Homo sapiens: one gene and its partners. The protein of the gene in region 1 purifies or fractionates together with the protein of each later gene. This does not show direct contact. Each region holds a gene or a part of one and is shown in the gene's direction. Other genes may lie near its edges.

Region 1 (5,547 bases):
CCACGGCCCTTGGGCTGAGGGCCAGGCGGGAGGGCCCTGAGGATCCAGGCTTTCGGGCGGAGCACAGGTGAGCTGGTGGGACGGAGGCACGGTGCCAGCTGGAGGACCTGGGCACCAGGTGTGGTGTCCCCTTGCACCTCTCCTCAGATGGTACGGTTCGGGGGTCCTTGCGTGGCCTGAGTTCACTTGGTGGTGAGCTGACCAACCCACGAAGAGGCTGCTGGTGCCCCTGGGGCCTGTCAGGTTCACCACCCCTGAGCTCACGAAGGCCTGGCTCGCGGCATCACAGGGGAAGGGTCCCCGTCCCTGCTCAGCCGGTGCTGGGGGTGGGCTGCACGCCTGGGCGAGGGGAGTTGAGGCTTCTGCTCGGTGCGTCTCCAGCTGGACCGGGGTTTCTTTTTGGTGCCTGTAACGAAACCCCAAGCTGTCTCGTTTGAGGAGGTGGGCATGGGGAGTGGGAAGTAACAGCAGGTCTCCGGGTCTCCCTGACTCCTGCGCCGAGCGGCGACAGCGGCCGCTGTGGGTGTTTAGACTTCCCTTCCCACACGCGGGTCCCTTCTCGCCCTTCTCCTGCGTAGGGCCCCGTCCCTCCAGGACCCACGTTCACTCAGCTGTCCTGTCTCCTCTGTCTCCTCTGGGCTGGAACGGTGTCTCAGACTCTCCCGTTTTTGTGAGGACGTAACAGTTCTGAGAAGGGCTGGGTAGGAGGTTTTAGGCTGTCCCTCAGTTTGGGCTTGTGGGATGTGTTTTCTCCTGACCGTACAGGGTTGAGGGTTTCTGGAAAGAGCCCCCAGAGGGGAGGTGCCATGTTTCCTCCTGACCGTACAGGGTTGAGGGTTTCTGGAAAGAGCATCCAGAGGGGAGGTGCCCTGTCCTAGGGGCTTTTGAGCTTCACTTCCTTCCCGCTTCCCTGCACCACGAGATGCTCCAGGCTTTCCTTCCCGCTTCCTGGCACGGTGAGATGCTCTGGGCTCGCCTCCGTGCCACCTGCCCCAGTGCAATAGCTGCCGCCTTTCCAGGAAGCCCTGTCTCCCGTGGCTGGAGCTGGAAGCCAGGGTCTGGGCACTGGGCGTCTTGCCCTTGTTCTCTCAGGAGCCAGAACTTGATAACATGCGTGTGTGCACCAGCCCAGTCACATCTGTGTTCTGCCAGCCCTGTTCACGTGTGTGTGCTGTGTACACGTGGGTACCGGCCTGTGCACTTGCGTGTGTGCGTGCCAGCTCCATGTACGTGCACCGCCCTGCAGCCGTGTCTTCAGGCACCTGAGTTTGGATGAGTGACTCCTTGCCGACATCTTGACTGGAATCCTGCGCCATGTGGTTTCTTTCCACCTTTTTGCTTTTTGCTCTGCCTCGTGTGTGTCTGTGTCTGTGGAGTGTGTAGAGCGTGTGGAGTGTGTGGCCCGTGTCTGTGGCATGTGGAGTGTGTGGCCCGTGTCTGTGGCGTGTGGAGCGTGTGGCCTGTGTCTGTGGCGCGTGTGGAGCGTGACCGGAGCATTCGAGGATGCACGTGTCCACGTGAGACCCACCAGGTGCCCCACCTGCCACATGGCCACCCGGGTGGCCCCGTCCCCAGCCGGTGTGTTTTGGGGACTGTGGAGCTGAGGGTGCCTCCCAGGCCCGTCCACCTCTGGGCTGCTGCGGCTGCTGAGGGAGGGGCGCGTGTGAGCGGCAGCCTGGCCTTCTTCCATGAGGATCTCTGCCCAGTGCTTCTGAGCCGTGCCTGCGGTGTGTGCACCCTCGAAGCTTGCCTGGCCCAGGTCCCAGAGGCCACACCTGCCTGACGAGGGCCTGCTTGCCACCTCATAACGTGGCCGCGGCTGCCCCTGAGCGGAGCATAGAGGCAAGGGGCCAGGGCACCCTACTCTCGGGGATGCCTCCGGCAAACGCACCAGCCGGGGTCTCAAGACCTCGCACCTCTGGAAGCCCTGCCTCCCAGTGCTGTTGCCCTGGGGGTTAAGTTTCCAACAGGTGAGCTCAGGACACGGGCGGCTGCAGCAGGGGTAGGAGCCTGTGGCTTCCACAAAGACATAATGGTGAAGCCGAGCTCTGAAGCTGGGACGGGAGTGACCTGTCCTGGGGCCTGTGGCCTCCTGACCTGGCCTGCGCTGGCCCCGTGTCCCCAGTCTGTGTCCCTATCCCCCAAGTCTGTGGTCTCTTCCATCCTTGCACACAATGTTAAGTCCCCACACGGTCTTCTTCCTAAATCTCACAACTTAAATTTATATGAAGGATTTTGTTTTGTCTTGTTTTGAGTCAGGGTCTCGGTATGCCGCCCAGGCTGGAGTGCAGTGGTGTGATCACAGTTCACTGCAACCTTCGCATTCCAGGTTCGGGAGGCCTCCCACCTCAGCCTCTTGAGTAGCTGAAACCACAGGTGCACGCCACCGCGCCTGGCGAATTTTCGTAATTGTTTTTGTAGAGGTGGGGTCTCCCTATGTTGCCCAAGCTGGTCTTGAACTTCTGGGCTTAAGTGATCCACCTGTCTTAGCCTCCCAAAGGGCTGGGATTATAGGTGTGGCCACTGCGTCCTGCCTATATGAAGGTTTTTGTGTAGCCATACCTGAAGCATCGAAAATAAAACATGGGCCGGGCCCAGTGGCCACACCTGTAATCCTAGCACGTTGGGAGGCTGAGGTGGGTGGATCATTTGAGGTCAGGAGTTTGAGACTAGCCTGCCCAACATGGTGAAACCGTATTTCTGTTAAAAATACAAAAATTAGCCAGGCGTGGTGGTGCACCCCTGTAATCCCAGCTACTCGGGAGGCTGAGGCAGTAGAATCGCTTGAACCCGGGAGGCGGAGGTTGCAGTGAGCAAAGATTGCGCCACCACACTCCAGCCTGGGTGACAGAGTGAGACTCCATCTCAAAAAATAAAATAAAACGTGAAGAGTGTGACTTTTGGAAGCTGTGGTTGGAGAGTGGGGTCTGGTGGTGATTCTGTGTGACAGAGGGGGAGGGTCCATGTGTTTCCCCGGGGAGGGGACCGTGGCATCCACCTTCCCCAGTGTCTCTGGCGTGGCCCGGCACCCCACAAGCCCCACGTCCCGGACGCTTTTCGCGTTGCCTGGTGGAGCCTGTCGCTGTTGGTGGCAGGTTCACGCAGCCATGGAGTCCTGGGCCGGCGGCATCCGTCTGGCTGTTCGGGGTCCTGGGGGCCCAGTCTGACGGCCACCTGCCCATTTGCTGTCTTGCAGGGTGGATGTGAACACTGACCGGAAGATCAGTGCCAAGGAGATGCAGCGCTGGATCATGGAGAAGACGGCCGAGCACTTCCAGGAGGCCATGGAGGAGAGCAAGACACACTTCCGCGCCGTGGACCCTGACGGGGACGGTACTGTGGCTGGGCCGGGGTGGGTGGGGCGGTGGGCGGGGCGGGCAGGGCCATGGGCCTTGCCTGGTGCCTGGAGGGCAGACAGGCCCTGTCTGAGGGACGGGCGGTGGGGAAGTGTCAGCCGGAGACCCCGAGGTGTGGTGGGGTGCACGGAAGCTGGGTTCATGATGCCAGAATCCTGGTGACAGAGGTGTGTGTGCCAAGCACTGGGCGTGGCCCATGGAGGGCGCCTCTTATGTCTTCGGGGCCTTCATCTGGTGGTGTCTATGCCTCTTGGTGGCCCCGAGGCACAGACGTTGCCGGCTGGCCTCACAGGTGAGGAAACGGGTGTGGGGTGCTGGCCGGGGCCCTGGGGCTCCAGACGCTGGCATCCTGCCGCTTCCAGCCTGGGCAGCAGAGCAAGACCCCATCTCAGTTGAGAAGGAAGTTCAGCTCAGTATCAGAGGCCCTGACAGGTGTGATCTGCTCTTCCAGGTCACGTGTCTTGGGACGAGTATAAGGTGAAGTTTTTGGCGAGTAAAGGCCATAGCGAGAAGGAGGTTGCCGACGCCATCAGGCTCAACGAGGAACTCAAAGTGGATGAGGAAAGTGAGTGCTCAGCCAGGCTCCCGCCACCGGTCTCAGGCATCCTGTGTGTGCGCGCGTGTGTTGTGTGTACATGAGTGTGCCGTGTGTGTCGTGTATGAGTGTGCCGTGCGTGTGCTCGTGAGTACGTGTGTGCGTGCCGTGTGTACGAGTGTGCTGTGCGCGTGCTCGTGAGTACGTGTGTGCATGTTGTGTGTACGTGTGCTGTGTGTGTGCTCGTGAGTACATGTGTATGCGTGTCGTGTGTACGAGTGCACTGTGCATGTGCTTGTACGTGTGTGCGTGTCGTGTGTACGAGTGCGCTGTGCGTGTGCTTGTGAGTACATCCAGGTAGCTGTTCATGTAGGCTCGTGAGTACATGCAGGTGAGTGCGCCCTCACACCCGCTGTGTGCACACGTGTTCGTCTTAACAGCATGGCCCAACCTGGTTGGTGGTGGCTGTCAGGAGGGAAGTGGGTGAAGCCGTTGCTGACCTAGGCGCCGCCCAGGAGTCCGGTGGGGAGCGTGTGAGCTGTGCCTGGGCAGCTTTCAGCTCTGCTGGTCACGGCACCTTCACGGCCGTTACTCAGTTAGGTCCTGCAGAGAATCTGAGGCTGTGAGTCTGGGTTGGGGCCTGCCCCGTACTCTGAAGGCCACGTGAGGCAGAGTTTCCTGGGGAGAGGGCACAGCCTGTGCCTGAGGGCCTGGCCCTGAGGCCTGGGTCTGCTGGAGACATCTGTGTGGCCGTCAGGTGGTCACCAGAGAGCGGTCAGGTCCCAGGGAGAGGCTCTTCCTTGGGTCTGGGGTGTGGCCGTTGGCCAGCAGGGCAGCCTCAGCCCTGGGCGGGTCCAAGCTGGTGCCTCTGCGTGAAGAGGGTGGGGCCGGGTGGGGCCCGGCACCCGGGCTAAGGCCAGGTGAGGGGAGAGCCGGGCCACCCTGCACGGGGCCAGGTCTGGGAGAGCCGTCCAGGCAGAAGCCCCTGCTGGCCCAGTTGTGAGGCACAGCTGAGCGGGTACCGTGGCGTTGCTGCCACCCTGGGGCTCCGTGTGCCCTTCCCGGTCATGCCCGTGGTCTGGTTTGGGGCTTTGAGGAGAACGTGCAGAGTCGCCTGCTCCGTCGCTGCCCGGCATCCTGGGGTGGGTTCTCTGCTGCCCTGCAGGGCGCCCGTGTCGCCCACGGGACTGGTCACGTGATACGGGGCTGCTCCTGGCAGGCTGGGTGTATCTTACACCTTTATTTTTTGTGCCTGCTTAACTTATCAGTAACACACATTTCCTCACCAGAGTCTCAAGGCAAACCACCTCTTCTTTCTTTTTTCATGAGACGGTCTCACTCTGCTACCCAGCCTGCAGTGCAGTGGTGCAGTCTCGGCTCCCTGCAGCTGTACCTTCCAGGGCTCAGGCGATCCTCCTACCTCAGAAGCTGGGACCACAGGCACCATCACCGCGCCTGGCTAATTTTTGTATTTTTTGTACGGATAGATTCTGCCGTGTTGGCCGGGTTGGTCTCAAACTCTTGGACTTAAGTCATCCGCCTACTGCAGTCTCCCAAAGTGCTGGGATTATAGGCGTGAGCCACTGCGCCTAGTCTTAGCCTCTTTCTTTTTTTAATTTTTAATTTTTAATTGTTTAAGAGTGAGGGCCTCACTGT
Region 2 (2,428 bases), on another chromosome or scaffold:
GGAGTCCCCATCCTTGGGGAAGGTGGTCCCCCTGAGTCTGGAGAAGACCAAGCCGTCCTCCTCCTCCAGGCAGTTAGACCGCAAAGCCCTCGGCTCAGCCCGGTCTCCCGAGGGTGCCAGGGGCAGTGAAGGCCGCGTGGAGCCGAAGGCCGAGCCCGTGTCCAGCACCGAGGCCTCCAGTCTCGGCCAGAAAGACCTGGAAGCCGCTGGGGCCGAGAGAAGCCCCTGCCCAGAGGCCGCAGCGCCCCCGCCGGGGCCGCGGACTCGCGACAACTTCACCAAGGCGCCGTCGTGGGAGGCGAGCGCCCCGCCGCCGCCGCGCGAGGACGCGGGCACTCAGGCGGGCGCGCAGGCCTGCGTCTCAGTGGCCGTGAGCCCCATGTCTCCGCAGGACGGCGCTGGGGGCTCGGCCTTCAGCTTCCAGGCGGCGCCGCGCGCGCCCAGCCCGCCCTCGCGCCGAGATGCGGGCCTGCAGGTGTCGCTGGGCGCCGCCGAGACGCGCTCCGTGGCCACTGGGCCCATGACACCTCAAGCCGCCGCGCCGCCCGCCTTCCCCGAAGTGCGGGTGCGGCCCGGCTCAGCGCTGGCGGCCGCTGTAGCGCCCCCGGAGCCGGCTGAGCCCGTGCGAGACGTGAGCTGGGACGAGAAGGGCATGACGTGGGAGGTATACGGCGCCGCCATGGAGGTGGAGGTGCTGGGCATGGCCATCCAGAAGCATCTGGAGCGACAGATCGAGGAGCACGGCCGCCAAGGGGCGCCCGCGCCGCCGCCCGCCGCCCGTGCCGGCCCCGGCCGTTCGGGCTCGGTGCGCACCGCGCCCCCAGATGGCGCCGCCAAGCGTCCGCCCGGCCTGTTCCGCGCGCTGCTGCAGAGTGTGCGCCGGCCGCGGTGCTGCTCGCGGGCGGGACCCACGGCCGAGTGATCTGCCCCCATTTTGTACGCCCGAGTTTCCGACCTTCTCAGGCTCCCTTCTTGATCACAGGCCCCTAGAAGGGGTCCCCTCTGCGTGCCACAGGCCTCCGAGGGGTTGTGCAGCCTCTAGGGCTGTTGCGTCCCCGTCTTTCCAGCCCCTCCCATCACAAATACAGAAGAACCCCTTCTACCAAGCTCCCTCGTGGCCACGAGGCCACGAACCCGGCCAGCCCTGACGCCCCACTGTCCCCTCACAGCCCTCAGCTCTACTCCCGGTCACACTGGGCGACCACGGGGGCCTGCTCAGCACCCTCACCTCCCACCCCCTGAGAGCTGGGGCAGGCTCCTGAGATGTCTAGACTGGTGCGTTGTGGTCTCCGGTGGGGCCAGATCCCCAGAACAGGGAGAGACTGCATACAAGTCTGAGTGGCAGAAGCTTCAAGTGGGTGAGGATCGGTGTGTGAGACCCGCGAGTGGGCACGTCTCTGAATGTGAGGTCTCGGGCAGCACGTGAGGTAGAACGAGTGTGAGCGTCTCCACGCAGTGGCTGGCCCCGTGGCCGGGGCGTCTCTTGCATGCTGTTGGTGGTCCTTCCCCAGTTCCTATCTCCCACCCGCCTGGTTCCAGCCCCATCCCCTCTCCCACTGAGTCACAGGTTTGAGATTCCCAGAGAGGCCAAAGACAGCTACAGGAAGTACCCTGGGGGCTCAGCTGAGAGAGAGTCACAGAAAGGCCAGAGGGTCTCAGGAAGGTCTGGAGGTCACAGCTGGGCTCACAGAAGCTCTTGGGCCCTGGCATCCTGGGTGACCGGTGTTCTTGGGTATTGGGGACAGGACAGAGAGCTCATTCTATAACCACAGTTGTCTTTTAAAGGCCACCCTCTCCAGCCCCTTGTCCCCCCTGTGCTGTGAGCCCAAGTCCCTTGTGACCACTCAGTGTCCCGTCCCCACCCCTCCAGCCGCAGTTTTTGGCTACAAACTGTCACAGTATACATTGGTAATAAAATATTTCCCCAACCCCTGTCTGCCGTGATTGGCCAAAAGCAGGAGGCAGGGCAGCGTCATATATTTTCATCTCCAGGGAGACAGGTGCAGTTAGGGTGTGGTAGGGCCTCTTCAAGGGGTCCAGAAGAGTGGGGGCCCCTGTCACAGGTCCGTGGTGTCCAGGCCAGCGTTGGTGTAGGATGGCCCCTCCAGCTGTCCACTTGCGCCTGCCTGCCGTCCTAACAGGACCACGCTCAGGGGCTCTGGATCTGGCTCTGGTGGTGTGTGTGGTGGCCTGTGCTCCTGCAGGGAGAGGGAGAGGAGGTGTGAAGGGCAAGGCAAGGTGGGGCGAGTGCCCCAGGCCCTAGGGGAGTGGATGGGCTTCAAGCTCACGACCAGTGGTTCCTTGGCAGGGGTCCCACCCTGCCCCTCCTGGGGCCTCTGGTCCAGGCTGTGTCCCAGAGGTGGCCCTGGCTAATGGTGATGCAGATTAGGGGAGGGGGAGGGTGTGGCCTGGGGGATTCACTCTTGCC
Region 3 (3,500 bases), on another chromosome or scaffold:
GGGGCCAGAGGGGGCCAGAAGCAAGCCAGGAGTGGGAGCAAGGGGCCCACCCCAGGGATGCCCCCTCGATCCTCTTTCCAGGGCTACGAATGGGCCTTCTGACTCCCAAGCACGAACACATCCAGATGCATTTGCTGTGCAGAAAGGGCCCTTCATTGTAGCCGCCAGGGAGGGTGATCCAGGGCCGGCCCAGGTGCCACAGCCTGCAGTCAGAATGCGGAAAGCCGGCGCCATGGACCAGAGAATGGACAGATGGCGGCGGCGGACTTTACCCCCCAACGTGAAATTTGATACATTCAGTTCTCTTGTCCCAGAGGACTCTCCACATGTGGGGCACAGACGAACAGATTATGTGAGCCCCACAGCCAGTGCCTTAAGAAAACCTCAACTATCCCACTACAGGGTGGAGACCCAGGAGGTGAACCCAGGTGCTTCACGGGACCAGACTTCCCCAGCAGTGAAGCAAGGGTCACCTGTGGAACCCAAGGCGACATTTTTTGCAGTCACCTATCAGATTCCCAATACTCAAAAGGCAAAGGGTGTGGTTCTGTCAGGAGCTGAAAGCTTGCTGGAACATTCTAGAAAAATCACTCCACCCTCGTCTCCTCATTCTTTAACATCCACTTTGGTTTCTCTTGGTCATGAAGAGGCATTGGAGATGGCAGGCAGTAAAAACTGGATGAAGGGACGAGAGCATGAAAATGCAAGCATTTTAAAAACTCTGAAGCCAACAGACCGTCCATCATCTCTTGGGGCCTGGAGTCTGGACCCTTTCAATGGAAGAATCATTGATGTGGATGCCTTATGGAGTCATCGGGGATCAGAAGATGGCCCTCGTCCTCAAAGCAATTGGAAGGAAAGTGCGAACAAGATGTCCCCCAGCGGCGGAGCTCCCCAAACCACCCCGACTCTGAGGAGTCGTCCAAAAGATCTTCCTGTGAGAAGGAAGACTGATGTGATCAGTGACACGTTCCCAGGTAAAATCAGAGATGGCTACAGATCCAGCGTTCTTGACATTGACGCCCTGATGGCAGAGTACCAGGAGCTGTCGCTGAAAGTCCCTGGGGAGGCTCAGGAGAGGAGGAGTCCCACCGTGGAGCCCAGTACGTTGCCTCGGGAGAGGCCTGTTCAGCTGGGCGGGGTGGAGCAGAGAAGGAGGAGCCTGAAGGAGATGCCCGATACCGGGGGTCTCTGGAAACCGGCCAGTTCTGCCGAAATAAATCACAGTTTCACTCCTGGCTTAGGCAAGCAGCTGGCAGAGACCTTGGAGACAGCCATGGGCACCAAATCTAGCCCTCCCTTCTGGGCTCTGCCACCCTCGGCTCCTTCTGAAAGGTATCCAGGGGGCTCTCCTATACCTGCGGATCCCAGGAAAAAAACGGGGTTTGCTGAGGATGACAGAAAGGCCTTTGCCAGTAAACATCATGTTGCAAAGTGTCAGAATTACCTGGCTGAGTCAAAGCCCTCTGGTCGGGAGGATCCAGGCAGTGGGGTCAGGGTGTCACCCAAATCGCCCCCCACTGACCAGAAGAAAGGGACCCCAAGGAAATCCACCGGGCGGGGAGAGGAGGACAGTGTGGCCCAGTGGGGTGACCACCCACGTGACTGTGGACGGGTGCCGCTGGATATCAAGAGGGCCTACTCAGAGAAGGGGCCCCCTGCCAACATCCGAGAGGGCCTGTCCATCATGCATGAAGCCAGAGAGAGGAGGCGAGAGCAGCCCAAAGGGAGGCCCAGCCTTACTGGAGAGAATTTGGAGGCCAAAATGGGACCCTGTTGGTGGGAGTCAGGGACTGGAGACAGTCACAAGGTAAGTACCGAGACACTTTTTAATTTTGTCAAACATGGTTTAAACATCTAGTCTAGGGGGCCGAAACTCAGATTTTGTGTGGCCCACTTTGGGTACATAAATGAGTGGAGTCAGGCTGGGTATGAGGCTCCAGGGAGGGGTATGGATTGTGGCAAATGGAGAGCTCATGCCCTATCTGAACTGGACAACTGCTGCTTGGTCCCACCTGGTTCTTTGTTTGTTTATTTGTTTGTTTGAAACAAAGAGTCTTGCTTAGTTGCCCAGGCTGGAGTGCAGTGGCATGATCATGGCTCACTGCAGCCATAATCTCCTGGGCTCAAGCCATCCTCCCGCCTCAGCCTCCCAAATAGCTGGGATGACAGGCATGCGCCACCATGCTTGGCTAATTTTTTATTTTTTGTAGAGACAGGGTTTTGCCATGTTGCCCAGGCTGGTCTCAAACTCCTGGGCTCAAGTGATCCTCCTGCCTCGGCCTCCCAAAGTGCTGGGATGACAGGCGTGTGCCACCATGCCTGGCCCAGCTGGTTCTTCACAGGCAGGAATGCTGGCCTTGAGATGGCAAACCTCATTTATCAAGAGAATCTGAAAATCTAGATTTTTATGTGTAATCCTCCCATTAGGAAATGAGGAGGACTTATTTTTAAAAATGCTGTTCAGCCCAAACAAGACTTGTCTGCTAGCCCCATGCAGCGCGCCGGCCACCTGTTTTACACTTCTGTCCTACAATGACGATAATGATAGATATCAATGGTAGCTTTATTGTGCTCCTGCTGTATAATAGCCTGTTGTATCCTGTTCATTATTATGTCCCCAGAATCCAGCATCATGCTTGACATACTGTGAATGTTCAAGAAGTATTTGTTGAATGAGTGAACAAGTGATCTTACGTGAGCCTCAAAAGAGGGATCACCATGGTTTTGGGTTCCAGCAGTCCCTTGTTTTTTTTTTTTTTTTTTTTTGAGACGGAGTCTCACACTGTCACCTGGGCTGGAATACAATGGTGTGATCTTGGCTCACTGCAACCTTCGCCTCCTGGGTTTAAGCGATTCTCCTGCCTCAGCCTCCCAAGTAGCTGGGATTACAGGAGCCCGCCATCATACCCGGCTAATTTTTTGTATTTTTTTTTTTTAGTAGAGACGGGGTTTCACTATTTTGGCCAGGCCGGTCTTGAACTCCTGACCTCGTGATCCGCCCACCTTGACCTCCCAAAGTGCTGGGATTACAGGCGCGAGCCACTGCGCCCGGCCTGTAAGCACTTTTTAAGGGGGTGATCCCAGGAAGAACCAGTAGGGGAGAGAAGAAGTGAGGCAGGTGCTACAGGGGCCATGGTTGGCCACAGAGGCACATCTCACTGGGGACCCCGGGAGGCAGCATGGAACACCTCTGAAGTTGTCATGTCCAGGGGTCAAGGGACCTGGAGTATGTATTTTCCAATCCCTCTGTCCTTGCCTGAGGCTGTTTGTGGGGTCATGAACATTCAGACTTTTCCATCCTGGCTGGCACCATGCACAGCAGAAGAAAGAAAATCTGGCTTCCTTTGTTCAGTGAAGAACAGAGAGAAAGAGAAGAATGGATGGCAGGGTGGGGGGTGGGGAGGAAAGGAGGAAGGGATCACTTTAATTACAAGCACACCCTTTTGGGGGTACATAAGCAGAATAGCTGTGAAGAAACCCTCACCCAAATAAGCCAC
Region 4 (3,500 bases), on another chromosome or scaffold:
AGCCACACCCATTCATTTCTGTATCGTTTGGGGAGGATTTCACACCACAGTGGCCCTGCGGAAGAGTTATGACAGAGACTGCAGGGTGCAAAGCCTAAATACTGTTTGGCCCCTTACAGAAAATTTTGCTGACCCCTGCCCTAGGAAGTCAAGGAAAAGGAAAGAGAAAACATGGCATCTTGTTTCTGGGCATTGATGATTGACTTTCAGAGTTTCCACGTGGCTCAAAGTGACAAGTCAACGGAGGCTCACCTGAGCAGTAGTTTTTCCTCCGGAGACCTTCCAGATGTCATCAGCTGCTTTTGGATGACTCTCCTCCCTTTCCTGACCTCAGATTGACTTCTAAGCAGAGGTCCCTGGGCTAACCCCCTGCAGCCAGCCCTCCCAGTCATTTGAGCTGCACCCTGCTTGAGGTCTGGTCACTCCTCATCAGTCCCCTTGATAGCCACAAATAGAGAAGTTCCCGCCTTCCTCCCAGGGGGATCTAAAATAGCTTCTGAAATTTGTCACCAACACTTTTAAACTGTGGCTTTTGGCCAGGCACAGTTTTAAGCATTCTGCACATAGTAGTTACTCATTTAATCTTCACATCCAACCCAGGAAGTTAGATGCCCCTGTCATTCCCATTTTACAGACAAAGAAGCAGAGACACAGAGAGGTTAGGTAGTTTCCTTAAGGTCACACAGCTGGTAGTGGTAGAGCCAGTATTGAAACCCAGGCTATCTGTTCCAGGGAATGTCCTGCTGTCCATTCATTGCCTCTGTGGAGCAGGTGAATTCTTTAGGCTCATGAAAGGATCTAGTTTTCCTTGTTCCACTCATGCCACTGTTGCACCTCAAACCATAAGAAAACTGCCTCGTACTTGAGAAGAAAGCCCCATTTATTCTTCCCCCATCTCTCTTTTTTCCCTCTCTCCTTCTTTCCTTTCTTCCTTCCCTCCCTTCTTCCCTCCTTCCTCCTTCTCGGCTTCCTTTTTTCCTTTCCTCCTTCCTTTCCTCCCTCTTTTCCTCTCTCCTTCTTCCCTTCCCTTCCTTCCTTCGCTTGCTCCCCTCCCTTTCCTTCTCCTTTCCTCCTTCCCTCCTTCCTTCTCTCCCTCTCTACTGCTCTCTTTCCTTCCCTCCTACCTTCCTTTTTTCCTTCCTTCCTTCCCTCTCTCCCAATTTCATCCCTCCCTTCCTCCTTCCTCCTCCCTCCAACAAATAATGATCAAGCCCATGACTATGCGTTACATAATGCATGAGGGGCTGCACAGAGTGAACAAGAAAAATGAAAAAGAAAGAATTCATTGCCATTTAAAAAGAGCTCTTGGTGGCTTCAATGTTGGTGGGGTTTGAGGAGTTCACTTATTCCCCCTCTTTTATTAATTGTAAGTACCATCTCTGTCTGGAATCATAAACTCTTGTCTTTTCTGCTTCATGCTGATATTTTCACTAAAAGTAACATAATTTAGGAGAGGTTTTGGGGAGGCTGGGCCTCTGACCTGTCCAGTGGGAGGAGCCTCCTGGGGAAGGACCTGCCCATTCTCAGAAGCCCAGCTTTCAGGGACAAGGAATGAAAGGTCATTGACTGTTGCTGGAGAAGTCTGCGGAATCTTAAAATGTGTTACCAAGCCTGCTGCTGGGTAGAACTTGCTGTCTTGAAGCAGCCATTACGCCATCTTTTGTAAGTGGTTTCATTTCAATGAGCTTTAGATGCCTGTCCTGTTTTCTTAAAACACTTGCTGGGGAGACTTTTTAGCATGATCTAGATCCTTCTGGGTGTGGAGATGCCTGAATGTTGGGAAGACAGACAGCAGCTGTGCTGTTGGAGAAGGGACAGTGTGGAAATCTTCCTTTGCTAGAAGCTGGTTTTCTCTTTCTTTCCTGCCTGTTTCTTCTTCCCTACTCTGTGCCTTTTTCTTTGACAGACAACAAATCTTTGTTGCTCATTTCTGATGAGCCTTCACTTTCTTTCCTCAGTCATGCGGAGGAATCCCTTTGGTGTGGACATCTGCTGCCGGAAGGGGTCCCGAAGCCCCCTGCAGGAACTCTACAACCCAATCCAGGTAAGCTTCAAGCACTCTGTCAGCATGTGAATTTTTTTTTTTTGTAGGTATGGATACTAAAAACTCTAAAATTGTGGTCTTTGGGGGATTTAAAACTTCCTTTCACAGCCTGGCATTTTACCTTCAGTGGTTGCTTTCTCCGTCACCCTTTTTCTATGTAGCATCTCTGAAAAATCTAGCAGGGGATGTTTAGAATTAGAGAAATGCCTAGGTTTAGTGCTAAGCATTCAGACCTGCCCAGGGTTTGAACTCCTGAGATTAACAGTCTCAAGTTCGAGCAATGGGACTCGGGAATTAAAGGTCCACCGAAGCTGTGCAGTCTTCCCTTTGGTATCCCCAAAGGAAGAGTTGCACATGGGTACACTTGACACCCATTCCCACATCCCACATATTAAAGCCCAGTGATGCCCCACCTCACTGTGCCAGTTTGGCAAACTCCCTTGCGAGCGGGGACCTTTTGCTAAGTGACTGCCTCAGTAAATCTAACTCGTTAGTTTAATGAGGCAGCAAACGTGGCCTCTGTGCCATCAATTATGAAAAGAGCTCCTCTTTGAGCAAAAGAAAAGCTCCAACCAAGGAAAAGTGTCTTCTGTGGAAAGCTAGTGCAAAGTTAGGAGGCCTGGTTGCCATGGCAACAGCCTCAGTGGTGTGTGTGGGTCTTGATGTGGAGACTCTGGGGCTGATCCTTTTGTAGGAACATTAATTAGCACTTGATGCCCAGAACTGGTAAGTGAACAACTAGCAGCAGCATCAGTGGACCTTCGATAGCCGTAGAGAAAGAGGGAAAAATGTACTGCTTTGGCTACAGTCTCTGACTAAATTTAATACTTCTTTGGACCAAGGTACCTGGTGGAGGAAGATAATGCACGGGCCTCAAAGGTGTCGAATTTTTAGAACTCTTGTAAAGGGATGCACTTGAGAACTATCTGATGCCCCCTACCCCCCTTCCCAATCTCTCACCTGCACTCCCTTCTGGAAAAATGGACTCCTGAATTTATGCATCATGGGTGGCCTAATTAGGTTAACTCATGCCCTGTCTTGAGGTGTGACTTGGCCAGATTAGCCCATTAATTGCCAAGTCAGTATTGCCTGAGGCTTCCTGTACTGGGTTCGGTGGTGACTCAGTGGGGAATTTGATAGTTGGGTTCCCTTTGGTGCCCAAAAAATCTCCATATTATAGGCAGGTCTCCCAGCCTGTCCACACACACCCTGTCCTAAGGAAGAGGCAGAACTGTGCTTCAACAAAGGATAGGATTTCTGGTAACCCGTGTCAAAAACAACACAGGCTCCTCAGATGCAAACCATTCCCTTCTTTTTGTTGATATCCTCTGTTCTCAGATGATTTTCTCCTTCAAAACAAAACTACTGAAACACTGCTGCAAATTTTATGGGTAACATATGGTGTCATGGGAAAAGCTATATCTGAAGTCACCGCCCCTGTGGATGGAAGGTCCAT

The links. The genes of interacting proteins can lie anywhere in the genome.
Region 2: the proteins of SDF4 (region 1) and GPRIN1 purify together in Homo sapiens (affinity purification with mass spectrometry; 3 studies listed by BioGRID and IntAct, with this or other methods). This does not show direct contact.
Region 3: the proteins of SDF4 (region 1) and KIAA1671 purify together in Homo sapiens (affinity purification with mass spectrometry; 3 studies listed by BioGRID and IntAct, with this or other methods). This does not show direct contact.
Region 4: the proteins of SDF4 (region 1) and CHST11 purify together in Homo sapiens (affinity purification with mass spectrometry; 3 studies listed by BioGRID and IntAct, with this or other methods). This does not show direct contact.

Annotation. Positions count from the first base shown.
Region 1 is NC_000001.11:1,221,618-1,227,164, reverse strand, and holds part of SDF4 (45 kDa calcium-binding protein isoform 2 precursor), read left to right. Parts: intron 1-3,196; coding exon 3,197-3,333; intron 3,334-3,807; coding exon 3,808-3,921; intron 3,922-5,547. UniProt on the Homo sapiens protein: May regulate calcium-dependent activities in the endoplasmic reticulum lumen or post-ER compartment. Isoform 5 may be involved in the exocytosis of zymogens by pancreatic acini.
Region 2 is NC_000005.10:176,595,302-176,597,729, reverse strand, and holds the end of GPRIN1 (G protein-regulated inducer of neurite outgrowth 1), read left to right. Parts: coding exon 1-922; 3' UTR 923-1,928; downstream 1,929-2,428. Other genes in the region: CDHR2 (cadherin-related family member 2 precursor), read right to left, coding at 2,058-2,198. UniProt on the Homo sapiens protein: May be involved in neurite outgrowth.
Region 3 is NC_000022.11:25,039,716-25,043,215, forward strand, and holds part of KIAA1671 (uncharacterized protein KIAA1671), read left to right. Parts: coding exon 1-1,810; intron 1,811-3,500.
Region 4 is NC_000012.12:104,599,948-104,603,447, forward strand, and holds part of CHST11 (carbohydrate sulfotransferase 11), read left to right. Parts: intron 1-1,958; coding exon 1,959-2,044; intron 2,045-3,500.